Linked DNA regions of Homo sapiens. The protein of the gene in region 1 purifies or fractionates together with the protein of each later gene. This does not show direct contact. Each region holds a gene or a part of one and is shown on either strand. Other genes may lie near its edges.

The links.
Region 2: the proteins of CHST10 (region 1) and PON2 purify together in Homo sapiens (affinity purification with mass spectrometry; 3 studies listed by BioGRID and IntAct, with this or other methods). This does not show direct contact.
Region 3: the proteins of CHST10 (region 1) and PARL purify together in Homo sapiens (affinity purification with mass spectrometry; 3 studies listed by BioGRID and IntAct, with this or other methods). This does not show direct contact.
Region 4: the proteins of CHST10 (region 1) and SGPP1 purify together in Homo sapiens (affinity purification with mass spectrometry; 2 studies listed by BioGRID and IntAct, with this or other methods). This does not show direct contact.

Annotation. Positions count from the first base shown.
Region 1 is NC_000002.12:100,393,669-100,400,702, reverse strand, and holds part of CHST10 (carbohydrate sulfotransferase 10), read left to right. Parts: intron 1-2,560; coding exon 2,561-2,795; intron 2,796-5,088; coding exon 5,089-5,194; intron 5,195-6,920; coding exon 6,921-7,034. UniProt on the Homo sapiens protein: Catalyzes the transfer of sulfate from 3'-phosphoadenylyl sulfate (PAPS) to position 3 of terminal glucuronic acid of both protein- and lipid-linked oligosaccharides.
Region 2 is NC_000007.14:95,404,352-95,411,052, reverse strand, and holds the end of PON2 (serum paraoxonase/arylesterase 2), read left to right. Parts: intron 1-951; coding exon 952-1,152; intron 1,153-3,984; coding exon 3,985-4,066; intron 4,067-4,805; coding exon 4,806-4,934; intron 4,935-5,564; coding exon 5,565-5,723; 3' UTR 5,724-6,191; downstream 6,192-6,701. UniProt on the Homo sapiens protein: Capable of hydrolyzing lactones and a number of aromatic carboxylic acid esters. Has antioxidant activity. Is not associated with high density lipoprotein.
Region 3 is NC_000003.12:183,828,751-183,832,894, reverse strand, and holds the end of PARL (presenilin-associated rhomboid-like protein, mitochondrial isoform 1 precursor), read left to right. Parts: intron 1-3,185; coding exon 3,186-3,297; 3' UTR 3,298-3,624; downstream 3,625-4,144. UniProt on the Homo sapiens protein: Required for the control of apoptosis during postnatal growth. Essential for proteolytic processing of an antiapoptotic form of OPA1 which prevents the release of mitochondrial cytochrome c in response to intrinsic apoptotic signals.
Region 4 is NC_000014.9:63,725,044-63,732,972, reverse strand, and holds the start of SGPP1 (sphingosine-1-phosphate phosphatase 1), read left to right. Parts: upstream 1-4,907; 5' UTR 4,908-5,028; coding exon 5,029-5,712; intron 5,713-7,929.

The DNA.
Region 1 (7,034 bases):
CGGTCTCAGAAAAAAAGTTTACTTTGTGCATGGTGTAGCCGAATGTTTGAATGGAAAATAGAAAATAATATTTGTCTTTAAGTTGGCTTTGTATATTTCCAAAGGGAAAAAAGAAAACAATGCTCATTCTTACACACAATTGAACAAGAAATCTTTTTTCTTTAGCTGGGCATGGTGGCTTACGCCTATAATCCCAGCACTTTGGGAGGCTAAGGCAGGAGAATCGATTGCGCCTAGGAGTTTGAGACCAGCCTGGGCAATATACTGAGACCTCATCTCTACACAAAATACAAAAATCAGGTGGTTATGGTGGTGTGTGTTTATAACCCCAGCTACTTGGGAGGCTGAGGTGGGAGAATCACTTGAGCCCAGGAGTTGGAGGCTATAGTGAGTCATGATTGTGCCACTGCACTCCAGCCTGGGTGACAGAACAAGACCTCGTCTCTTAGAAGAAGAATTTTTGTCTCTAATGCTTTGCTAAAAGAAAAGCAATATCTAATATCTTTTCTTTGTTCAAAGAAAAGCAGTATCTAAAAGTGCAGAGTTTTCTGCATTTTCTAAAGGGAACTTGTTGGGAGGTGCTCTCTCCTGATGCGCTGTTCTTGAGTGCCATCCATGATCAGGGTTAGGTTTGGAACAGAGAGGGAGGAGAAGACAGAGAGGCTCTTTTGGGATAAGTGAGCAAGAGGTGGGATGGATGAGGAAATGAGGTTAAACGAGACCCGTTCTTGTAAGAGCAAGGAGAGTGCCTGGCGTGGCTCCTGGTTTTCCATGGTGGGTGGAGGGCCCGGGCAGCCGCTGATGCCCTGTGGGGAGGAACGGAGGCCACTCTGCAAAGGGGCCTCTCGCTTCCCCAGTGTCTTCATCTCGAAAAGCAGGCAGTCAGTAGCCCCCAGGATGCTCTTCCCACCACCAGGGAATCCCAGGAAATTCACTTAAACACACAAGGGAGAAAGCATCCTGGCCAGAGGTCATGAGTGTAAGAGAGTTTGGTTACAGTAGATCCATAAAGGAAGAGCTGGGTGGGGGGCCCTGAGGGGGGACCTCTGTCATCCTGATAGTTCCAGCGTCCCGGTTCTAGTGTGTTCTAGAAGTCTTATGTCCTTCCCATTTTCTAACTGACGTTGTCCCCTGGGAGGACAGGTTGTTAAAACTACCCTATAAATGGATTTCCTGGCAAGCCCAGTGCATTTTAAAAGATATAACAAGGATATTTGGGTCCATTCAATACAATTATTTGGAAGGATCATCTGCTTTGAAATTTTGGGAAGTTCTGTGTAGCTTTAAGAGATAGATATGGCCGGGCGTGGTGGCTTACGCCTGTAATCCCAGCACTTTGGGAGGCCGAGGTGGCGGATCACAAGGTCAGGAGATCAAGACCATCCTGGCTAACACAGTGAAACCCCGTCTCTACTAAAAATACAACAAAAAATTAGCCAGGCATGGTGGTGGGCACCTATAGTCCCAGCTACTCGAGAGGCTGAGGCAGGAGAATGGCGGGAACCCGGGAGGCGGAGCTTGCAGTGAGCTGAGATCGTGCCACTGCACTCCAGCCTGGGCCACAGAACGAGACTCCGTCTCATAAAAAAAAAAAAAAAAAGAGAGAGAGAGAGATGTAGCAGCTGAAGCCTTAAAAATGCTGAGAAACAGGGCCACAACTAGAGGGGGCCGATGGGGTTGGTGGAGGCTGCCCTGCTATTCAGGAATGCCCTCAGGATGCCTCCAGAGAACAAGGAGGTGTGAGCAGCAAGGGGACTTTAACTCACCGAGGACAGGGGGCCTCTGAGCAACTTCTGTGTGTACTGGCACATCTCCCTGTGCCCCCTCCAACCCATGCACACACAAGGCCTCTCACATTACAGGTATTCTCTTAGGTTCTAAAACAGCCCTGAAAAGAATGGACCAGCATGTAGAATTTGAGCTTTTTCATCTTTTTCCCCCTAGCTAGAGGATTCCAAACTTCTTACTTTGGTTTTTAATTTCTTTTTTCCCCCAAGACGGAGTCTTGCTTGCTCTGTCGCCCAGGCTGGAGTGCAGTAGTGCGATCTTAGGCTCACTGCAACCTCCACCTCCTGGGTTCAGGTGATTCTCCTGCCTGAGCCTCCTAAGTAGCTGGGATTACAGGTGTGCACCACCACACCCAGCTAATTTTTGTATTTTTAGTAGAGATGGGGTTTTACTATCTTGGCCAGGCTGATCTCGAACTCCTGACCTTGGGATCTGCCCACCTTGGCCTCCCAAAGTGCTGGGATTACAGACATGAGCCACTGTGCCCGGCCTTATTTTGTTTTTTAAAGTCAAACTTCTCTCCAAAGATCTGAGGAACCAAGCTTGCATTCATTTTCCTTGCCCAGCCTGCCGATCGGGCTGGTGGAGAGGCTCTGAAGGCCTCATGAAGGGGCTGGGGATAGTGGGTGTCACTCTGTAGACAGACAAGGAAGGGAAGAAGAGAAGGCTCCAGATGGAAAGGAGGGGATAGACCAGCAGGAGCGGCTCTGCTTGGCCCGGTCCTGCCTCCTTTAATGGTCCCTGGGCCTCTTCTGCTCTGTGTCACCTGCAGCCAACTGGGAAGGAGCTTCCAGACAGCCAGCTCGTTCAGCCCCTGGTCTACATGGAGCGCCTGGAACTCATCAGAAACGTCTGCAGGGATGATGCCCTGAAGAATCTCTCGCACACTCCTGTCTCCAAGTTTGTCCTGGACCGAATATTTGTCTGTGACAAGCACAAGATTCTTTTCTGCCAGACTCCCAAAGTGGGCAACACCCAGTGGAAGAAAGTGCTGATTGTTCTAAATGGTGTGTGTGGGTCTACTGAATGTCCACTGGGAAGGGTCTTGGTGGCCGGTGCTGAGGAGGCTGGGGAGGACAGCAAGGAGGAGTCACAAGAGGGCTGGTTTGACCTGAAGGGACTGGTGGCCGTCCAGACAGGCCTGTTTTTGTTGTTTCCTGTTAGTGTTGTGCCTTACAAGTTAGTGGGGCTCGTTTAGACACCGATTCTTTTCAAAGGGGCACAGCCACAGTCCAGCTCTCCTCACCTGTCACAGCAGATCCTCACTTTAGGTGGCTCGCCCACCCCCAGGCCCCCCTCCTTTGTCTCTTCAGGTTCCCTGTGCTGATGGTTATAGTCACCCACTCTGTCCGACATCCCCAGGGCCCCACACTCGCAGAGCCACCAGGAAGCCTCACGGTCACCCTCTCTGCAGTGAGAAGGGCTCACACTGTAGAGCCTGGGAGGGGAGCCCTGGCCCGGGGCCTGGAGCCTCTTTACCTGCAGACCAAGCGTTCTGTGCCAGCGAGCAGGAAGAAATTGTACCCCATTTCACACTAAGCATCTGTGTTCAGAGGATTGAGTCAGCTTGCTTCAGGAAACCTGATGTTTGCTAGGGAACAAATTAGATCATCACAAAGTAACCTCATACACTGCAGTTTTGATTACTCACTACTCTTTTTAGAGATGTCTATTTATTTAAATTCCAATTAGTCTGAACCGATCCTAATAATTATGGGCTCTGCTTATGAAATTTAGCTTCAGACAGGAGTTAGTTCCAGTCAACAGCAGTGGGACTCCTGGGTCAGAAATCGGATTTTGGGGCACCATGGGTAGGTGGCCCTAAGGCTCCATGTCCTGCTTGCCACTCCTGATGCTGCCCACAGAGTCGGTGGTCACTCCTGGCCACTGTTTGGCCTTCGCAGGGGTTGGCTGGGAGAGAGAATGGTGGCACCTCATCATCTGGTTGTCACATATAATTAATGTGCTTCTGCAGTGATTGGATAGCATGTTGGGTTTTCAGAAGCAGAATGAGGCTGCAAATCGAATTGAAAACAAGGAATATACAAAGGCTCACAAATCAGCCACCACAGTGTGAAGCAGCATACTTTAAGAAGTAAACACCCACTTAGAAGGGCAGCATAGAAATCAGAGTGGGCTTGCTGGATCATGTAATACAGAAGCGGGTGGTCCTTGTGGCTATCTTCGGTAACCACTAGTGCACCTGGATGGGGACAGGTGCATGAATGGGCCCATATGTGGACCCACAGAGCTGGTTCTGTCATTGTCCCCTTGAGAGCAGTGCTCCCCACGCCTAGTTTACAGCCATCCATAGCATGTACCGCAGAGTTCTGGACTGGGCTTTAAACACTCGGGGGAGGAATCAATAAAACAGACAAGACTGTGTCCACTGGTCAGATGGCCCAGGGAGATTCTTCCCTGCCAGGACTCCAATCTTAACCCTACCGGATTAACACAAAGATGGATATTAAGGCTTACAGAAACTTGGAGAAAACCTCAGCATACTGACAGTGTATTTCCATTTGTCTGTATTGAGAAAAGAGTGAAAAACCTGCTCAGCCACCAACCCTAGGATGGTCTCTGCCCAAGTTCCATTCAGCAGCCTGGACCTGCACTGGTCCCTGATGACAGACCCTGGCTGTTGGCACGGCCCTGCCTTCTCGACATACCTTGTCCTCTTTTGACTCCTGTCTCAAATGTATCACAGCTCCCATAGCTTAGTCAGATTTTTCCAGCATCAAAAGGTCTTTGCTCTTTGCCAGCCTGGGATGCTGCTGGGGTACCTGAGAGCCACTGTGGGCCAGGGGCATGTGGTGCTTGGAGAGCTTAGCCTGTCTATGGGATGGGGCTGTGAAGCTGCTGCGGGCATCTGTTAGCATGACGTTCCAAAGTCCTGCTTCTCTGGCATTTTCCCCCAGTCTCAGAGTAGAGTAAGTGTTGCTGGTGTTAGGAGTTCTGTTTGCATGCAGCGATCTTCCTCTAATGGCAGATTTAGCCCAGTTAGGTCCATTGCCAGGGGTAGGCACTGCCAGCATTTCCACTCCTGCTCCCTCCCCCTCCTCCCTGAAATCATCAGTTTCCTCTAGTTGGCTTATGGATTCCCAGAAGCTTTTCTTCACTCGTTCATCCTGCTGGCAGAAGCAGTTGAAATTCAAAGACCTAAACTTGGATATTGGGGGTGGGCTTGTCATGCACACGTGGGGAACATGAGGCCCAAGGTAAAGATGAGGTAAGGACATGCCCTTCTCTAAGGGGCGTACTGGAGCAGCCAACCTGCCTTCCTTTCCGTTTACTTCCCAGGAGCATTTTCTTCCATTGAGGAGATCCCCGAAAACGTGGTGCACGACCACGAGAAGAACGGCCTTCCTCGGCTCTCTTCCTTCAGTGATGCAGAAATTCAGAAGCGGTGAGAACAGCTTCCTCAAAGGGGAGGGGGGAGTTTTTGTAAACCTGAGAAGAAATTTGGGGAAAACCCCAGGCTGAGTTCTGTACTTGGCAGATTGATCGGAGGACCACAGAGGGCTGTCGGTTTGCATCAGTGAGAGGCAGCTAAGCTACACCCCCCATTCGGCGCCTCAAAACTCTCAGTTCCTTCTGAGAATTTCCAGCCTTACCTTCACACAGTCCATTAACATGAAGGTGACATCATTTTGTTAATAGAAATTAGCAGGCAACTTTGTTCTGCTTTGGTAAAGTTTTATAGATTGCTTGCTGAATATGATCTTTTCTTTATAAGAAAGGGATTTGGATTGCAGAGATCTCACTGAGTATTTGATTCTCCCAGAGGCATTGTGCCCACTGCTGTGGGAGCTGCCCCTGCAGTGGTTGTGTGGGCTGCATCCAGCATGGGCAGGGTAGAGAGACGGAACCCCTGATCGCAGCAAGGACGGAGTCCAGGCTGGGCGCAGTGGCTCATGCCTGTAATACCAGCACTTTGGGAGGCCGAGGTGGGCGGATCATTTGAAGTCAGGAGTTCAAGACAAGTGTGACTGACAGAAACCCCGTTTCTACTAAAAAAAAAAAAATAGCCCGCTGTGGTGGCACACACGTGTAGTCCTAGCTACTCAGGAGGCTGAAGCAGGAGAATCGCTTGAACCCTGGAGGCAAGGGTTGCAGTGAGCCAAGATCTGGCCACCGTACTCTAGCTGGGGCGACAGAGCAAGACTCTGTCTCAAAAAAAAAAAAAAAGAAGATGGAGTCCTTAGCTAATAGATGAGAAAGTTCTCATGTAGTAGCTCTCAGGTGGCCCAGGAGAGCAAGGCTGAAAAGGAGTGAGGATGCAAAAGCAGCGGCTCACGTCAGGTCACCAGCTGGATTTTGCCTCCTGGGTCTGCAGCCACCTGCCTTGCATGGCGCCTGACCTGCATGGCACCTGCCCATCCTTACAACCCTTACCAGAGATGCTCCTGGTGAGGAGTGTCCTGCTGTTGCCCTGAGCACTCATGGGGCTTTTGTGAGACTCAGTGAGTGAAGACACGGCAAAGCACAGAGAGCAGTTTCTGGCCTGTCGTAATCACACCGTGTTCTGTGATGTCACTGTTGTCATCGTCTTTGTCATCGTCACTGCTGCCGGCCCTCCTCCCCAGGGCCATGCTCTGCTGCCGCCCGCTTGCAGCTCACCCAGACCTGCTCCTGCCCTCTGGAGCGTGAAGCCTGACTCTCTGTTTTCTCTTGCCCCCCTTCCCCTGGCAATTTGAATTGAACTTTTAAAAATATGCCCTTAAAGTAACTTTCCCTGGCACCATCTATTCCTGACTCAGAGTTCCTGCCCTTATGATTTTCTGCCCAGGAACAAAATTTGTAAACATTCTTGAAGTTTTGAATCATTCAAGTAAAACAGAAGGTAGATTAAATAGATGTCTTCACAGTGACTGCCTACAATGAGTACTGTGGCCTTGGACAGGTAAGGTTTTCCAAGCCTCTGTTTTCTCACCTGCAAAGTGTGGTAATAACAGGATTAATCCACAGGATCTTGGAGTAGATTAAGAGACGTGTGGAATGCATTCATGGCAGCCTCGGCACGTGAGGGTCCCATACACAGTGCTGCACTCCGCTCATTCTTCCCTCTCCCGCCCCCTCAGCTGTGACCTCCTGTGGCATCAAGTTAACCTCTTGTTCGTTTTTTTCCTTAGATTGAAAACATACTTCAAGTTTTTTATTGTAAGAGATCCCTTCGAAAGACTTATTTCTGCATTTAAGGATAAATTTGTTCACAATCCCCGGTTTGAGCCTTGGTACAGGCATGA
Region 2 (6,701 bases), on another chromosome or scaffold:
ACTGCTTCTTTTAGTTTAAACTTGATGAATATTTTTAATTTCTAATGAAATTTCATTTCTAATGAAATTAAAAATATTGCCTATCTAGGGCCTATCTATGCCTATCTAGGGCATAAGCATGTAACTTCCAATCATTCCTTCCAAAAATGCACTTGATAAAAAAAAATAGGAGCATAAATACCATCCAAGCATTATGGTGCTCTTTCAGAAAAATGAGACCTACCTTCCCTGTAGCTCTATATTTTTCATTTAGCAAAGAATAAAGCAGCTCTTTCAGAAATTTTTGCATAGAGTAATTGGAATTTAAATTTAATAACACCCTCACCTAACTGGTCTTAAAATGAAATTGTTTTTAGCATATAAATCTCTCACCTGAAGCATTGTACTATGGCAATTTTATCATCCATCTCTCTGCAAGTGTTTATTGAGTGCCTGTTCATTCTCGGCATGTCAGCTTTGTGAAGCAGGTAGAAATTGAACAGTCAACCTTAGTTTGACTAATAACTAAGCCAGGGAAATTAGAAAAATCCAGGAACTGAGTAAATGGAAGCTAGGTAAATGTTACTGACTGCCTAACCAGCTCACCAGCCAATCAGGCTCTCTCCAGCTCTGTACTGTGGACAGCTCTGTCCTTACGTATAATTGTTAAACCCTACATTTCTTGCTGTCAAAAAACATGCCCTGATGGCACTAAGTTCTTTCTTCTCTTATGGTAATCCTGCCATAATTGCTAAATGACCTGTGTTCAGATTACCTGGTACCATACAAAATTGTTCTCTGGCAACAATATTATAGTATATTGTATATGACTATAGTCGTGATTTTTAGCTCGTCTTTTCCTCTTACCAAAAATTTAAAGCACATGTTGCATAAATCTTATGAGTACTTAATATTTAATATGGAGACCAACAGGCCTTTTGTTTCCTCTCACATGCTATTTTTCTTTTTCAGTGTGAATGACATCACAGCTGTTGGACCGGCACATTTCTATGCCACAAATGACCACTACTTCTCTGATCCTTTCTTAAAGTATTTAGAAACATACTTGAACTTACACTGGGCAAATGTTGTTTACTACAGTCCAAATGAAGTTAAAGTGGTAGCAGAAGGATTTGATTCAGCAAATGGGATCAATATTTCACCTGATGATAAGTATGGCCCCTTATAGAATATCTTCATTTTTCTTCAGTTGTGGTGCTGGCCAAATTCTTTACTTTGCTTTCTTTGTCAATGTGAAAATAGTTTTCTTGACATTTATGGTATATTATACATATAATATATAGATACACTATATATATAATTATATATGTTTTGTATATATATTTACATATACTTAGTCACATGTATTTATATGCAAATACAATACCATATTTAAGTAAACTATATAATACAGTAATATATATGTATTTATATATAATATATAAAGTTTGGAATACATCATTGTCAAATTTAATTTTATAAATATAAATTTTAAAGTGTGATCATACTGATGCATACATATTGAAGTATCAGGTATTTCCTTTTAAATAAATGTATTATTTTTATTGGCTATACATTATTCCATTATAAGGATGATCTTAAACTAATTTAACCAATTCTCTATTGATGGATATGTGTATAGGGGTGGGGAGTTCTACATAAAAAATATTTTATACTTCTTATTTACCATGGAATTTTAAACAAGTATTTTTTTTAAAGAAAAAGTCCCTAGGAGAGTGTTTTTTTTTTGTTTTGTTTTTTGGAGATGGAGTCTCACTCCGTCGCCCAGGCTGGAGTGCAATGGCATGATCTCAGCTCACCTCAACCTCCGCCTCCTGGGTTCAAGTGATTCTCCTGCCTCAGCCTCCCAAGTAGCTGGGATTATAGGCATGCGCCACCATGCTTGGCTAATTTTGTATTTTTAGTAGAGATGAGGTTTCTCCATGTTGGTCAGGCTAGTCTTGAACCTCCAACCTCAGGTGATCCGCCCACCTCAGCCTCCCGAAGTGCTGGGATTACAGGCATATGCCACCACACCTGGCTCTAAGAGAGTATTATAACATAATGGTTAAACTTGCAGATTTTGGACTCATACAGGCCTGGGTTCAAATCCCACCCAGGGCACTGGCTAAATGGTTCTATGAGCTACTTTTCTGTAGAACAGACCCCTAGAAATAGAACTATTTGCTCAAACAGTGTGATTCTTTTAAATGTTAACTTTAATAGATATTGCCAAATTGTCCTCCAGAATTATCTCATTATTTTTATATGCACAACCACAACCTATAAGAGAAGATATTAAATTCTTGATAGCTTTCTTATCTACTGCCTCAGCACACTGAAAAATTTAAACTACTACAAATACAACATAAAATAAATTTGGCACTCCTTGACAACTAAATGCCCTTATTTTTGTAATCCAATTTCTCCTCCTTTCTTGTTGACTATAGAAAAAGAATGTAGAATCATTTAATTTAAATTGTCTCTAACTGACCTGATCCAACCTCTGCAGCCAAATCTGTTTTTCACTCTTATATTTCCATTATGAGAGTCAAACTTTCCAATCACCCAAGCTAACAAAAAAATAACAATAATGAAAAGGGAGAATCAGCTTTTACTCCTCTTTCACCATTCCTATCCAGCCTGTAGGCAGGTCCTGTTGGTTCTACCTGTGCCTCCTTCCTCTACCCCCAAACTCCTTTCCCTTTGAGTGAGACCTGCCTAATTTAGGTTGTCATCCTCTCTGACTAGCATATGAGACTTTCTTCCAATTTGTTTTCTGTCTACTTGGATTTTTTTCACTCTTGCCAATTTTGTCTGTCTATCTCTATTAGCCTTGAAGGGCTCCCCAAAGAGGGAACTCTGTCTTCCTCACCTTTGACTCCTTATGCCAGTACAGTGCCAGGCACAAAGCAAATGCTCAGGAATTGTGGAACAGAACTGACCATTTGTTGCCACTTTATTATTCTAAGATTTCAGTGGAATCCAATTGCTTATCAAATCAAGGCAGGGTAAAGGGTTGGACTTTGTTTAACAGGCCACCTCCAACCTCCCTTTTCTACTATTTCCATGCTTTCTATGCTTTAGACAAAGAACTCATTGTTTTAAACATTCCTTCCTCTTCTTGCTCCTGTGATTCTGCTCTTGTGCTTGCTTCTGCCTGGGAAGTGCCTCCTCCGTCCTCATCTCAAATCTCATCTCTCTTTACACAGCCACTGCAGATGCCCCTTCCTTGGTGAGCCTTTCTGTGTCCTCGGAAGTTAGCTATTTCTAGACCTGAACTATTTCTCATGCTTATTAGGTGTTTAATGTGTACAAACCAGTGAGATTTGTTCCAACACACTATAAACTTTCAAGGAGAGAGGCTGTGTCTTCTTCATGTTTATATCTGCTGCAACACTGAGTTCATGGCTTTTCACACATAATTGCTCAACAGAGCAGGTGCCATGGAAAGTCAATTCAATGAGTAAAATTACCTCAAAATAGTCTGTTAATTCACTCACCTTTGAAGTAGACAGATTATTCTGCATTGATACTTATCTCTTACTCTTAAAATTCGCTATGTATTAATAAATATTTTATTGAATATTAAGGAATGATCACTATTTTAATAAGATGTTCTTTACCATATATTTCTATATGTACATGATAATTAGAAGTATCAAATTATATTGTGGAATGTAAAAGCTTTTCTTCTGAAGCCAAGCATTTGTTTTATTGTCATTTCAGTGGCAAATATGGACTTCATATTCAAAATGATGTTCTATATTATTTTTCCTTACAAGCTTTTTGAAAAACAATTTAATAATTCCATGATTGTTGTAGCACCACTGAATTGATTCTGAAAGCTTACTTTTTAAATAAAAATTGACCTTTATCAAGCATTCCTTGAGGGCCCATGATTGATTAACTTCTTGGCAGGTTATTAAGACTTATTCTTTCACACTGTATTAATGAAGCTTTATATTGGCATGGAGCTCTAACCACTGTGTCCTTTCTGCAAAGGTATATCTATGTTGCTGACATATTGGCTCATGAAATTCATGTTTTGGAAAAACACACTAATATGAATTTAACTCAGTTGAAGGTAAAATATTTATTTTTACATATAGACAGTAATCTATTATGCTTTGCAATGACATAGTTTTTCTATAAGAGTACCACACGTAGAACAAAATATGGATGCCAGTGTAGCTATTCTGGGTTTTTAAATACTCCCTACAACTAGAGAAAGCTCCTGTTTCCAGCGATCTCAAGAACTGACCATGATTACATGCAGCAGCAGGTTGAGAGTGATATTCATCAGATTTAGGGCCCATTCCATGAAGTATTGATGGCAGTGGAAGAATTCCAATAAGAATTTTCACAATTGAAAATACTAATAGATGAATTCTCAAATGAAGGTTTATGCACAGTGTCAGTTCTTTCAATAATACATGAAGGTAGAAATTGGGTTCCACACCATTATTATTTTCTTCCTACTCAACAACACATATTTTAGGTTGATTAAGAATTTCCTATCTTGCTTTGATTGAGTTCCTTGAGCTAACTGATCATTGTGCATCTTTTAAAGGAAAAGGAGTTCAGTTTTTAAGATAGATTTTTACAGAGACCGATTATCACCCTAACTTTCTTAATTTCAGGGAAGAAGAAAAGTGGCTCCAAACCAGTTTTTAATACATTCCTTTTAAGCAATATTGGTGTTAGAAGGTGGAAGCAGGGCGATGTGTAATTTCCTCACATGCATAGAGGCAGGAAGGTTACCTCTAAATTATTTAATCAAGTTTCTCATGTCATTTAGATTTTGACAATTTCTCATTTGGAAGGTACTTGAGCTGGATACACTGGTGGATAATTTATCTATTGATCCTTCCTCGGGGGACATCTGGGTAGGCTGTCATCCTAATGGCCAGAAGCTCTTCGTGTATGACCCGAACAATCCTCCCTCGTCAGAGGTTTTTATATTTTCAGTTTTTTAAACTTAATTATTCAAGTCCTTTTGAACTAATAATACAATAAATTGTCACAGGGATGATTTGTTTAGTTATTTTAAAGCAATAATATAATAAGCTTATGTCGTGGTTTTGTAATTGCGTTAAGCCAATAATTGGCAGAATGTTACATTGTTCAAATACTTTAAGAAAGGTAATCTTTTGATGTATTAAATTATGGTGGAAACTAGTCAAAAGGCATTTTTATAAAGACATGTGCCCTTCTTGGGTGGTATACTGGCAATTTTTAAAATATCTGATTTATTGTCAGCTCACCACATGATGTGATATTTGTTCATGTTGAAGTAGTGTGAAAGTAGGCACATTAGTATGAAAGTATTTCTATTAAAGCTGAATTGCTATAATAACACTAAATCCTGTGTTGGCATGGAATAACTAGATGGTTTTAAGAAAGTACTTTCTTTGAAGATTGGAGAAAGTACTTTAATTTAAACATTAAAAAGATTGGTAACTGCTATTTTCAACAGCATGTCCCCTTAATCAGTGTGTCATTGTGGAAAACAGGGCTTATTGATGATTGAGTGACATGCATGTACGGTGGTCTTATATTCATACTTTGTATCCCCTGAATAGGTTCTCCGCATCCAGAACATTCTATCTGAGAAGCCTACAGTGACTACAGTTTATGCCAACAATGGGTCTGTTCTCCAAGGAAGTTCTGTAGCCTCAGTGTATGATGGGAAGCTGCTCATAGGCACTTTATACCACAGAGCCTTGTATTGTGAACTCTAAATTGTACTTTTGGCATGAAAGTGCGATAACTTAACAATTAATTTTCTATGAATTGCTAATTCTGAGGGAATTTAACCAGCAACATTGACCCAGAAATGTATGGCATGTGTAGTTAATTTTATTCCAGTAAGGAACGGCCCTTTTAGTTCTTAGAGCACTTTTAACAAAAAAGGAAAATGAACAGGTTCTTTAAAATGCCAAGCAAGGGACAGAAAAGAAAGCTGCTTTCGAATAAAGTGAATACATTTTGCACAAAGTAAGCCTCACCTTTGCCTTCCAACTGCCAGAACATGGATTCCACTGAAATAGAGTGAATTATATTTCCTTAAAATGTGAGTGACCTCACTTCTGGCACTGTGACTACTATGGCTGTTTAGAACTACTGATAACGTATTTTGATGTTTTGTACTTACATCTTTGTTTACCATTAAAAAGTTGGAGTTATATTAAAGACTAACTAAAATCCCAGTTTTGTCTGTGTTTAATTCTGAAGGCATATGGCTAGGAGAAATGGGAAAGCAGCTGCTTCCTTATGGAGTTTGGATAGGCAAGCATGGCCATATTAATTTCTCTTGTGGAAAGCTGAAAGTGAATGGACTCTTAATTTGAAACAACAACAACAAAAATCAATGAAATATTGCAACTCAAATTCCCAGTTCCTAAGGAGGTTTCCATCAGCTCTCTTCCTTAATGGGAGTCCACTTTAGAGACAAAGAGGAAATAAGGGTTGGGACAGGAAGGTCTTGCCACCTCCTCATTGAACAGAACTGTGAACTAAAGCCAGGAGAATGAAGTCAGTCGTCCGTGACCACATGGTTAAGCAGCAGCAATGCTAGGATCAGGGCCGCGTGCCCAGCTCACAGAGGGAGAGTTTTTCTGCTCACTGTACCTCCTATAAAATCATCATAAGCCCTAGAGAGAGACTTTCATGTGTTTCTTTCCATTGTAATTTATCAAACCACTTTACTTCACTTCTCA
Region 3 (4,144 bases), on another chromosome or scaffold:
GCTCTTCAATAGCAGAGCAGAGCTGTAAACCCACCTCTATAAGCCCTTTCCACCCCCACCACACCATATGGAATTGGTTGCTAAACTGCTTCCTTGGGTCACAGCAAATGGCATTGTGGTTACAAGACCTTCCACGTGTGCTTCAAACAATGGGGTTTTGCCTAGACTAGTGCTTAGTAGTAACTGTATCACGGAAACACGGTCAGGACTCTTGGCGTCCATCTGATCGTGGGAGACCCGTCAGCATGAGCTGGATCCCCTCGGGGCCTGTCTTTTCTTACATAAATGTTGCCTTTTGCCCTTACTTGGTTTTTATTTTGTTCCGCGACAATGGAAAACTTAATTTTTTTTTTTATTAAAAAGAAAAATCTATTCTGGCCAGGTGCAGTGGCTCACGCCTGTAATCCCAGCACTTTGGGAGGCCAAGGCAGGCGGATCACAAGGTCAGGAGATCGAGACCATCCTGGCTAACACAGTGAAACCCCGTCTCTACTAAAAATACAAAAAACTTAGCCGGGCGTGGTGGCGGGCGCCTGTAGTCCCAGCTACTCGGGAGGCTGAGGCAGGAGAATGGTGTGAACCCAGAAGGCAGAGCTTGCAGTGAGCCGAGATCACGCCACTGCACTCCAGCCTGGGCGACAAAGTGAGACTCTGTCTCAAAAAAAAAAAAAAGAAAAATCTATTCTAAGTGAAGCAGTTTTTCCCAGTAGGTGGCAGAACTAAATGCCATTATGCCATTTATAATTTTAAGTGATTAAAGAGGAGTAGTATGTAGTATATGCAAGGTCTAGCTCTAACAGCAGTGCAGTATAAATAGTAGAAACTGACCTGATATTACAGTATGAGAAACATGAAGGGGTTCTGTTTTGTGAGCTCTAAATTTATCTTCCATGTATACTTCAAGGCTCTTCTCCCCAGTAGATTTTTATTCATCTGAACTATAATTAGGTGGCCTTTTTCCATTCTGAAAATAATTGGATCAAATGCATTTTAAAGTCCAGGGTCTGAAAGGTGGAGGAATCCTTTCTCTTTACTGTTTCTAATTTAAACTCCTTTTCATTTACTAGATTTCAGTCATGTCCAGAATTCATCTTTTCTAAAAGCTTTAATCTAGATTTAGAAATCTAAAATCTTTTATTTATTTTTTTTTCGTTGAAGTGCCCTGATTTTGTTGGTGGTAAAGACTCCATTAGTATCCACTTATACATTTCCCTGACTTTGCCTCTGACCAAACCTTACAGTATTCACATTGTACTGTTGCAATAATAATAGCTAACATATTAATACGCTGAATATTTGCTGTGTGCCTAAGCTAAGGATTTAATTCTCTTAAAATCCTGTGAGGTATTTTATTTTACAGAAAAAGAAACTGCTTAAAGAAAGTAACTTATCCAGGTCACACAAGTAACAATTGCAGAGCTGGAGTTTCAGATGAGGGCTGGCTTGCGCTGCCGCTACAGAAAAGAGTGCCCTAGAAATCGGTCATCTTGCATTTCCCGATTTTAGTTTAGCCAAATGAAAAATTCCTTTTGGATTTATGAGTATAATCAGACAGTATACCTGTGAAATTAAAGTATTTGACTCTTTGCTTGAAATAAGTAGGTTAAAAAGATTTGGGTGGCCGGGCGCAGTGGCTCACGCCTGTAATCCCAGCACTTTGGGAGGCTGAGGCAAGTAGATCACTTGAGGTCAGGAGTTCGAGACCAGCCTGACCAATATGGGGAAACCTCGTCTCTACTAAAAATACAAAAATTAGCCGGGCGTGGTGGTGCATGCCTGTAATACCAGCTACTTGGAGGCTGAGGCAGGAGAATCACTTGAAGCCAGGAGGCAGAGGTTACAGTGAGCTGAGATCACGCCACTGCACTCCAGCCTGGGCAACAGAGCGCGACTCTGTCTAACAACAAAAAAGATTTGGGAAAACACTTTATTAATGAAGAGTTCCTGACAAAGTGATTTTTTTGGGGAGAATTTTTATAATTGCATTTGAATATTAGGGTGCTCCTTTTTCTCTCATTCTAAATTCACCAGAGACTTAAGCACAGAGAATTTTTATTACATGCCTGTTAATTAATGTGTATAATCAGATTTTAACTATATTTAGTGAATATTAAGATTCAGGTACAAATCAAGCCCTTTATAATTAAACATACACATTCAGAACATTTTTAAAATATTAAAACATTAAACTGCTCTTCTCACCCACTCCAAGTCAAATAGCATTTTTTCAGTCAGGTGTCTGGGAGCTCGATGCAAGATAACAAAATCTGGTCTCTGCCTCAGGGAACATGAAATCTGTTTGGGGAAGCCAGAGCAAAAATAAAGGTTTTAATAGCAAGCTCTCACTAACTGCCCCTGGAAATCCACCCCACATCCTCCAGGAAGCCTTTCTCTACCCCCAGTGCCCTCAGGAGCTTCTCCAAGGCAGGCCCTTCCCAGAGCGCAGTGTGCTCCCCAGCTCACAGAAGATGCTCCCTACACGCTGCAGGAAAGTCCAGTGCCTGCAGCACAGGCTTCAGCAGCAGACTCGGGTTCTAGTCTCAGTCTGCTGATTCCTAGTTGTGGAACCTGAGCAGGCGAAGTTACTAAACCTCTCTGTGCGTCAGCCTCCCAGGCTCGTTGCTTCAGGCCGCAGTTAGGCTGTGTGAACAGGAGAGTGGGGATGGGAACTAGGTATCTTAAAGCGGGGCAGAGTTTGGATGAGCGGGCCACCCTTCGTATAGTTAGGAGGAAGATGACGGGAGGCATGGAAGCTGGGATAGCCATCCTGAGTCAGTGCTAATTCTGACACTTCAGAACATCGAGTCAGTCTGACCTGCGAGTGAGCTTTCATTGACCACTTAGAAACTATTAGCACCTTGGACAAACTACTTTCTTTCAGACCTGGTTGCTTCATGTCTGCGATGGGAAAACTGATACTTAACTTGCAGATAGTGGTGAATCAAAAGTAGTATATGTGAAGTACTCACACACTGCGGAGCATTCAGCCATCGTCCCATCCTACTTCTACCTTTTACATATTGTAATATGAAAGCTAAACCATTTCTCGATGTGAGTCAGTTTTAATCGGCTACATAGTGAGTGGCATTCGATTTTAAAAATGTCAACTTGGGATCTGTCACCATGCTACTTACCATTTGTATGTCACACTGTTTGAATGTCGGACCTGGTTTGTTTTTCTCCAGATGGTATGTTACTTACGGTCATGAACTGATTTGGAAGAACAGGGAGCCGCTAGTGAAAATCTGGCATGAAATAAGGACTAATGGCCCCAAAAAAGGAGGTGGCTCTAAGTAAAACTGGGATTGGACAGTAGTGGTGCATCTGGTCCTTGCCGCCTGAGAGCCCCAGGAGACATCGGCTAGAGTGACCATGGCTATGCTCCCGTCTGGAAGATGCCAGCATCTGGCCTCCCACTGTTTTCAGCTGTGTCCCCCAGTCCGTGTCTTTTTAGAATGTGAATGATGATAAAGTTGTGAAATAAAGGTTTCTATCTAGTTTGTAAGCAGATGTGTGTGTTCTCTCTTTAAGGGGCCGACACGGCTCTGGCATTTTGCTTTGGTTGTTGCATTGACAGGACCTGGGGAGAGTGCACCCTGAAAGGCCTGATCAGAACATGAAGGCGCTGGTTGCCTGTCTTTGGACCCTCCAGTGCCTCTGCTTAGCCTTCACTCTTCCTTGCCTCCCCCTCCCCTGGGTTGGCTGCACATAAAAGTCGAGAGTATCCCCTCTCCAGCACAATCTGAAATAACAGCTGCAGTATTTTCTCAATTTTCAGGAAAGGTAGTGTTTTCTGGCAGTGAGTGGCATATACAAAAAGCTATTTTCAGGTTTTGCTTTCTAGGTTCAATTTGTAGATAAATTAAGAGGTAGAAAGAAGTGATTTGGGTAAATTCAGACTTGAATCTGAGCCGAATTTTATCTTCTGTTTGAAAGTGTTCTAATTGAAGCGTCTCACTGAAATAGCAGATAGTGGCTGTCGTCGTCACAGCCTCACTGTTGTGGAATTCATGTTACCCTCGTGACTGAGAATGACATCTAGGAAATGCAGTTTGAGAGTATGTTCTTCTTGAAGTCATTTACAGGAGAATTTTTAGTCTTTTGATGGCTTCAAAATGTTATACCAAGTCTTGCAGCTTTGTCC
Region 4 (7,929 bases), on another chromosome or scaffold:
CCCAGTACTTTGGGAGGCCAAGGTGGGTGGATCATGAGGTCAGGAGTTCAAGACCAGCCTGGCCAACATGGTGAAACCCCGTCTCTGCTAAAAATACAAAAATTAGCCAGGCGTGGTGGCACATGCCTGTAATCCCAGCTACTCGGGAGGCTGAGGCAGGAGAATTGCTTGAACCCAGGAGGTAGAGGTTGCAGTGAGCCGAGATCACGCCACTGCACTCCAGCCTGGGCGAAAGAGCAAGACTCCATCTCAAATAAAAATAAAAATAAAAATAAAGTCAAGTACAGAGAAGGATATAAGAAAATCAACATGTTAATTATGAAGCATGGATATGATACAGTTCTCATATCACACGATATCTTTATTTGGCTTTGCAGGAAAGACACTGAATCATACCCAGGTAGTATATCCCTACTTGGCAGCAATATTTTTTCTTCAAAAAAATGTTTATTCACATTCTGAGAGAATGCAGAAAATAAACAAAAATTTAAAAAATTAAAATTGTATGCTTTGTGATAAAAATACTTGCCATAGAATGTTTATATTTGAATCTTTTAATATAGTTAAATTTTTTTGTTTTCTTTTTACTTTTTTCTTTTTCTTAGAGGCAGGGTCTCACCACATTGCCCAGGCTGGTCTTGACCTCCTGGCCTCAAGCAATCCTCCTGCCTTGGCCTCCCAAAATTTTGGGATTACAGGCATGACCCACTGTGCCTGGCCTATAGTTAAATTTCTATTAAATTTTAAGATATTCTATTAGGAAAATTTCAGAGGGAATGTGGGTAGAAACCACCAAAACTACTATTCTTTATACCATGGCTCTTTGGTATGTAGGTAAGACCTTGTCCCTCTCATTAACAATGATTTATTGCACCAGTGTCAGCTCCTTCAAGTTTTGTCAGCTTGTATTATTTTTCCTGTTTAGTGCAGTTATAGGTCAAATTTCCATTTCTCCATCACCTTTGTTCCCATTACTGTTAAAGGGGATATTGCATTCTGACAAAATATACCAGCGCTAAAGGACTCATAATGCAGCCATGGGATCTAATGATCACCTCTACTTTGTTTTACATACTTTCCTCTTCCTCTGCCATCTCTGGGATAAACAGACCCTAGACCAGGAAATTCCTCAGATGAATCTGAATAATTCCCTTGTAATCAAATTATTTTGACAGAAAAGCACATACACAATCCCTCAGCCTGATGCTGTTCTCCCCTTCTCTCTATAAACCAAGATGCTCCTTGTCTTCAAATGCCAACGAATCATCTGTTTCACAGAACCATTCATAGAGAATCCAATGCCACCTCTCTGCTTACTCCACAGAGTGATTACTTTATGTCTCATTTTTCCAGAGCTGTTTAGTATACCTGGCTTTACACCTTCTTTGAATATATTTGTATCTTTTTCTCATGTTTTCTCTCCTTCACTACATTGCTAATGCTTCAATATTAGATACAAGGGTTGGCCAGGCTCGGTGGCTCATGCCTGTAATCCCAGCACTTTGGGAGGCCAAGGCAGGCGGATCACGAGGTCAAGAGATTGAGACCATCCTGGCTAACACAGTGAAACCCTGTCTGTACTAAAAATACAAAAAATTAGCTGGGTGTGGTGGCAGGCATCTGTAGTCCCAGCTACTCAGGAGGCTGAGGCAGGAGAATCGCTTGAACCCAGGAGGCAGAGGTTGCAGTGAGCTGAGATCACACCACCATGCTCCAGCCTGGTGACAGAGCAAGGCTCCGTCTCAAAAAAGAAAAAAAAAAAAAGAAATTAGACACAAGTTTGTTCTAACCAGGAACAGACTAATATTTGCCTGCAGTCCTATGAATTCAAATGAAACATTTTAATTTTTTCCTAGTTCCAAAATTTCATTCAAATCTATCCCCCGCTTCCAATCCCCCAGAACCAAGGTCCTAGTTCAGGCTGTCATTGTTTCTCACCTGATGACTGCAATAATCTTCTAATTATTTACCTAGCCTTCACTCTCTGACCTCTGACAATCGTCTTTGATTTCTTTCCCAGTTATCTTTCTAAAACACAGTTCTGATGGTGTCACTCCCTAGCCTAAAAGCCTTCCATGGCTCCCACTGCCTACAAAATTAAATCCCTTTGGTATTCAAGGATTTACAACCTAATCCTATCCTCCCTTTGTAATCCCATTTCCAATCACCCTTGCTACTCTATGCTATATGCTATTGTTTTTTGGTTTTTTTTTTCATTTTTTAATTTTTACTGTTTGAGACAAGGTCTTACTCTGCTGCTCAGGCTGGAGTGCAGTGGTACAATCGTAGCACCCCGTAACCTCTAACTCCTGGGCTCAAGCAATCCTCCCACCTCAGCCTTAAAAGTAGCTAGGGCTACAGGCATGTGCCATCACACTCAGCTAATTTTTTTATTTTTCTTTATTTTTAGTCTGAGTCTAGCTCTATTGCCCAGGCTGGAGTGCAGAGGCACAATGTTGGCTCACTGCAACTGCCACCTCCCAGGTTCAAGCCATTCTCCTGCCTCAGCCTCCCGTGTAGCTGGGATTACAGGCACCTGCCACCATGCCTGGCTAATTTTTGTATTTTCAGTAGAGATGGGGTTTCACCATGTTGGCCAGGCTGGTCTCAAACTCCTGACCTCAAGTGATCCACCAGCCTTGGCCTCCCAAAGTGCTGGGATTACAGGCATGAGCCACTGCACCAGCCCCCCACCTAATTTTTTAGAAAATATTTTTGTAGAGTCAGGGTCTTGCCATGTTGCCTAGGCTGGTGTCAAACTACTGACCTCAAGTGATCCTCCCACCTCAGCTTCCCAAAGTGCTGGGATCAAAGGAGTGAGCCACTGCACCTGGTCTCTATGGACTATTGTTTACCAAATACATTTTTGCATATCCCTATCTTCCTTCACTTTCTCTTCCTAAAATGGGCTTCTTCACCTATTCATATTTTGCTCTGTAAAACAATCCAGCTCTACAGGATCACCTCCTAACACCTTTCTTCCTGTTCCTAGTCAAACTTGTCCTCCTTTCTGAGGCATGCTGTTTATGTCTGTTTTACACTTGCCATCTTCTCTATACTCTAGAAGTAGTCCTGTCTTTCTTTATCTCCCCTAAACTGTGAACAACTTGAGAGCATGGGTGATGATTTATTCCTCTTTCTATGGCCACAGCCTAGCAAGTGGAGTGGGAGGAGGAGAGTACCTGTCCCTGCGAAATGAAATTTTTTTTTTTTTTTTTTTTTTAAGATAGGGTCTTACTCTGTTACCCAGGCTGGAATTGCAATGGCACAATCAGGGCTCACCGCAGCCTTGACCTCCCGGGCTTAAATAATCCTCCCGCCTCAGTCCCCCAGTTATCTGGGACTACAGGTGTGGGCCACCATGCCCGGTTAATTTTCTTTTTTTTTTTTTGAGACAGAGTTTCACTCTTGTTGCCCAGGCTGGAGTGCAATGGCGCGATCTCGGCTCACCGCAACCTCTGCCTCCCTGGTTCAAGCAATTCTCCTGCCTCAGCCTCCGAGTAGCTGGGATTACAGGCATGCACCACCCCGCCCGGCTAATTTTGTATTTTTAGTGGAGACGGGGTTTCTCCATGTGGGTCAGGCCGGTCTTGAACTCCCGACCTCAGGTGATCCGCCCGCCTTGGCCTCCCAAAGTGTTGGGGTTACAGGCGTGAGCCACTGTGCCCAGCCCTGCCCGGCTAATTTTGTTCATTTTTTGTAGAGGTGGGATCTCCCTATGTTGCCCAGGCTGTTGTCAAACTCCTGGACTCAAGCCATCCTCCCTCCTCGACCTCCCAAAGTGCTGAGATTATAGGCATGAACTACCACGCCTGAAGGAAAGTATTTCTACTGTTTTAAGGGCATGGGACAATTTCAAGCCTGTTTCTTGGAAGTAGTTCACATTCTTTAATTACAGACATTCACCTGATCATGGCGGGTGTGGTGGCTCACGCCTGTAAACACAGCACTTTGAGAGGCCAAGGCAGGAGAATCACTTCAGCCCAGGAGTTGGAGACCAGCCTGGGCAATATAGCGAGACCCTGTCTCATCTCTCTCTCTCTAGGTATATATAAAAGACATTCACCTGACCTGAGGAGTTCAGAGACCTTATAAACTGCTCTAGCTAGAAGTCAAGTTGGTAACTTGTGAGACACGGAAGTTAAGCGTCTAAATTAACGTTACCAAACTCAAAAATCTATACACTGCATTCATTCTCTACATTTATTCTGTGCAAGCCCTCTAGGTATTAGAATCTAGGAAAAGGAAATTTTACACTTAAGAACACCTGTGCTCCCTTAACATATACCAAAATATTTGATAAATGACACAGTATTTTGAATTTGTAGGTGGCTGGCTTTTCTTTTGCAGACCACACCTGTTAATATCACCTGGCCCTGTCTTGGGATCTACATGTAGTCTTGTCACCACTGGTCAATTGGCACATGGTTTTCCGAACATCAGTCGCCTGGGACAGCTCTGTAATTACTTGTTAATTACTTGAGTCGAATGATTCCGAACTCATGGTAGTTGCTTCGCCTTCATTGATCATTCACCATTTGGTTCTGTGCCAGCAGGATGCCCGGCTGCTTGGTCACAGGCATTGCGCAAGCTGGCACCGGGATCGTGGCCTCTTTAAGTCAACTTCTGGCTGAGGGAATCCGGCGACACTAGCCCGCGGAGAAGAAGGGCTGAAGGTGGAGCAGGGGGACACGCCGCGTCCCACCAGACGTACGCCGCGACGCCTGCTGGTGGATATTACCCGGGACCTCAAAGCGGCCGCCCGCCGATCCTCAGCGCCAAGCCACGGCCGGATGCGCTCAGGGCGGACCCGCGCGGCCCGGCCCCTCAGGGAGCCCGGGTGGGGGCGGGGCTGGGCGGGGCGGGGCGCGGCGCGCGCGGGGCGGGGGCGCGCGGCCTGTGGCGCCGTCACCCGGCAGACTCCGGAGGGTAGAGCGCTGTGCCGGTTCCGCTGCCGCTGGCCAGGAGCGCGGGGACAGTTCGGGGCTGCGCCGGAGGCCGGCCCGCCTTCCCGGGGGTTCCGTTATCATGTCGCTGAGGCAGCGCCTGGCCCAGCTGGTTGGCCGTCTGCAGGACCCGCAGAAAGTGGCCCGTTTCCAGCGGCTGTGCGGGGTGGAAGCGCCGCCGCGCCGCTCAGCAGACCGGAGGGAGGATGAGAAAGCGGAGGCGCCTCTCGCCGGAGACCCTCGACTGCGAGGGCGGCAGCCAGGGGCGCCTGGAGGCCCCCAGCCTCCCGGGAGCGACCGCAATCAGTGCCCGGCCAAGCCGGACGGCGGCGGCGCCCCCAACGGCGTGCGGAACGGGCTGGCGGCCGAGCTGGGCCCGGCCTCGCCGCGGCGCGCGGGCGCTCTGCGCCGCAACTCGCTGACGGGCGAGGAGGGCCAGCTGGCCCGCGTGAGCAACTGGCCGCTCTACTGCCTGTTCTGCTTCGGCACGGAGCTGGGCAACGAACTCTTCTACATCCTGTTCTTCCCCTTCTGGATCTGGAACCTGGACCCTCTGGTGGGCCGGAGGCTCGTGGTCATCTGGGTGCTGGTCATGTACCTGGGCCAGTGCACCAAGGACATCATCCGCTGGCCGAGGCCCGCCTCGCCGCCCGTGGTCAAGTTGGAGGTCTTCTACAACTCTGAGTACAGCATGCCCTCCACCCATGCCATGTCCGGCACCGCCATCCCCATTTCTATGGTCCTCCTCACCTATGGCCGCTGGCAGGTAGGGTTCCTTCTCGTCCTGTTCAGCCTGGGGGAGTTCAAAGAACTCGGAGTTCTCTTTGCTCTCTGCATTTATTTTAATTCGACCGTTCCCCTCCAAAGCCTCTCTTTCCACAGGTTTTCACAATACTCGCAAACAGGCCCTTTCTGGGTTTTGAAAAATTAAGTGATTGGGGGAAACTGGATACTTAGCCGTTGAATTCTATTTTAATATTAAATTCCAATTTAATGCCTTAGAACCCAAAGGACACACTTTTCCTAGAGTAATACATTGTCATTGGGCTTTGGTTGAGTTTTTTAAACGGCTTTAATTCTTGTAATGCACAGTGGAAGTGAATTTTTTAAATAATCGCTATGTAAACTAAGACCCAGTTTCACCGTAATATATGGTGCCTTCTTCCCTAAAACTGTTTCAGAAAGAGGTAAAGTCATTAGCTTTACCGTGAGACAGTGTTTACAAAACGTTAGTGTAATTCCAAAACAAACATGCTAGTTCCAAGCAATGAAGTAATCGATTTTCATCGAAGTTCCCTTTATGGAAGTTAATGGAGCACAGGGTGAGTTCTGTTTTTAAGGGGTGTGGTTGCTACTTTGCTGATAAAGTTTGATTATCTTCTGGATCACTAATCTGTAGTATCTAACAGTTGTTGAGCTACAACTGTAATACTATAGTGTTATTGCCTCATTAACTCTAAAAATGCATGGTTTAAAAGTTATTCTTAAAGATAGGGCTCTTGATCAAACTAGTGGGTTTATAAAAATGGCAAATATGACAGCAGGGTCAGCCTGACAATCAGGAAAATTTTTTTTTTTTTTAACCCTCTCTGAAAACTGCCAAGGGAAGAGTTTTTAATGGTAATCGTTTTTATTTTGCTTACTTCTTTTGGCCTTCCAATGTTTATCTGTCTTTGAACTGTAAGATTTGTTAATCCTGCAGACCAGTCCCTTATTTTAAGAATAAAGTGCGTAATTGTGGAGATTCTAAGGAAACAAACTTCCTCTATTTTTTCCCCCTTTACTTCACAAAATCATTTTACATTGAGAAATACACATTCTGTGTAAAACTCCATTATGATAAGCTTACTTATCCCACATTAAATTTCAGTGTAGATAAAATTTCGTCCCCATGGATACTTCTGTGTAGTGCATCTCTCTTACAGTACATGGAAAATACGCATTGTGCATAGTAAGAATGGCAGAATTAGGAGGAAAGAGTACCATGGGAAGTTTTTTTCTGTTTAACCAAAGGAGCTATACGGTGATGTTCAGATTGTGAAGCAGTGCTACCTGTTTTGCGTAACAGATAAATATCTCGAAGTTTTCATTTAATCTAAATATTTCAGAATTTAAGATTTTCAATGAGCTGTGTTTGGCCTGGTGATGTTAGCTGATGATGTTTCTCTTATTTTCGTGAGACTTTTAGGATTCTGTAACAATAGAGCCTTTTATGATGCCTTCTCAGTGAGTAGCTATTTTGTATGCTATTAGTATTAGCAGTCAAAGTAAGAGAAAATAGCTATTTTTGCTCTTTATTTGTTCTGGACACATACTAACTGGAAGTCTGAAAACAGTACTGCTGAATCGTTTATGGGATATTGATATTCTAACATTTCAGGGTTATTTGAATTATCAGAATAAGCTTAGATTTAGTTTTTAAACAACCTAGTATATTTAACTCAAAGTTTAAGAAATTTGCGTATCATAGAATTTTAGACTTTGAAGTAGACCGGATGTTAGAAATCACTTAGTTTCAAACTGTCATTTTACAGATGTGCAAACTGACCAGTTACATTAAAATTAATCTTGTAATGCTTTAAATTTCTTATTTTACATTTTTTCACTCTAAATTTGCATGATTTTTCGGTTAGTTGTTCTGAAAGAAAGCCTCCTGACGGAGTCTCGCTCTGTTGCCCAGGCTGGAGTGCAGTGGTGCAGTCTCGGCTCACTGCAACCTCTGCCTCCCAGGTTCAAGCAATTCTCTGCCTCAGCCTCCCGAGTAGCTGGGATTACAGGCGCCTACCACCACACCAGCTAATTTTTTAAGGATTTTTAGTAGAGATGTGGTTTCACTGTTTTGGCCAAGCTGGTCTTGAACTCCTGACCTCAGGGGATCCACCCATCTCGGCCTCCCAAAGTGCTGGGATTACAGGCGTGAGCCACTGCGCCTGGCCTAAGCCTCCTTTATATGAAAGTTCTGTGTTTATAAATGTTTGACTAA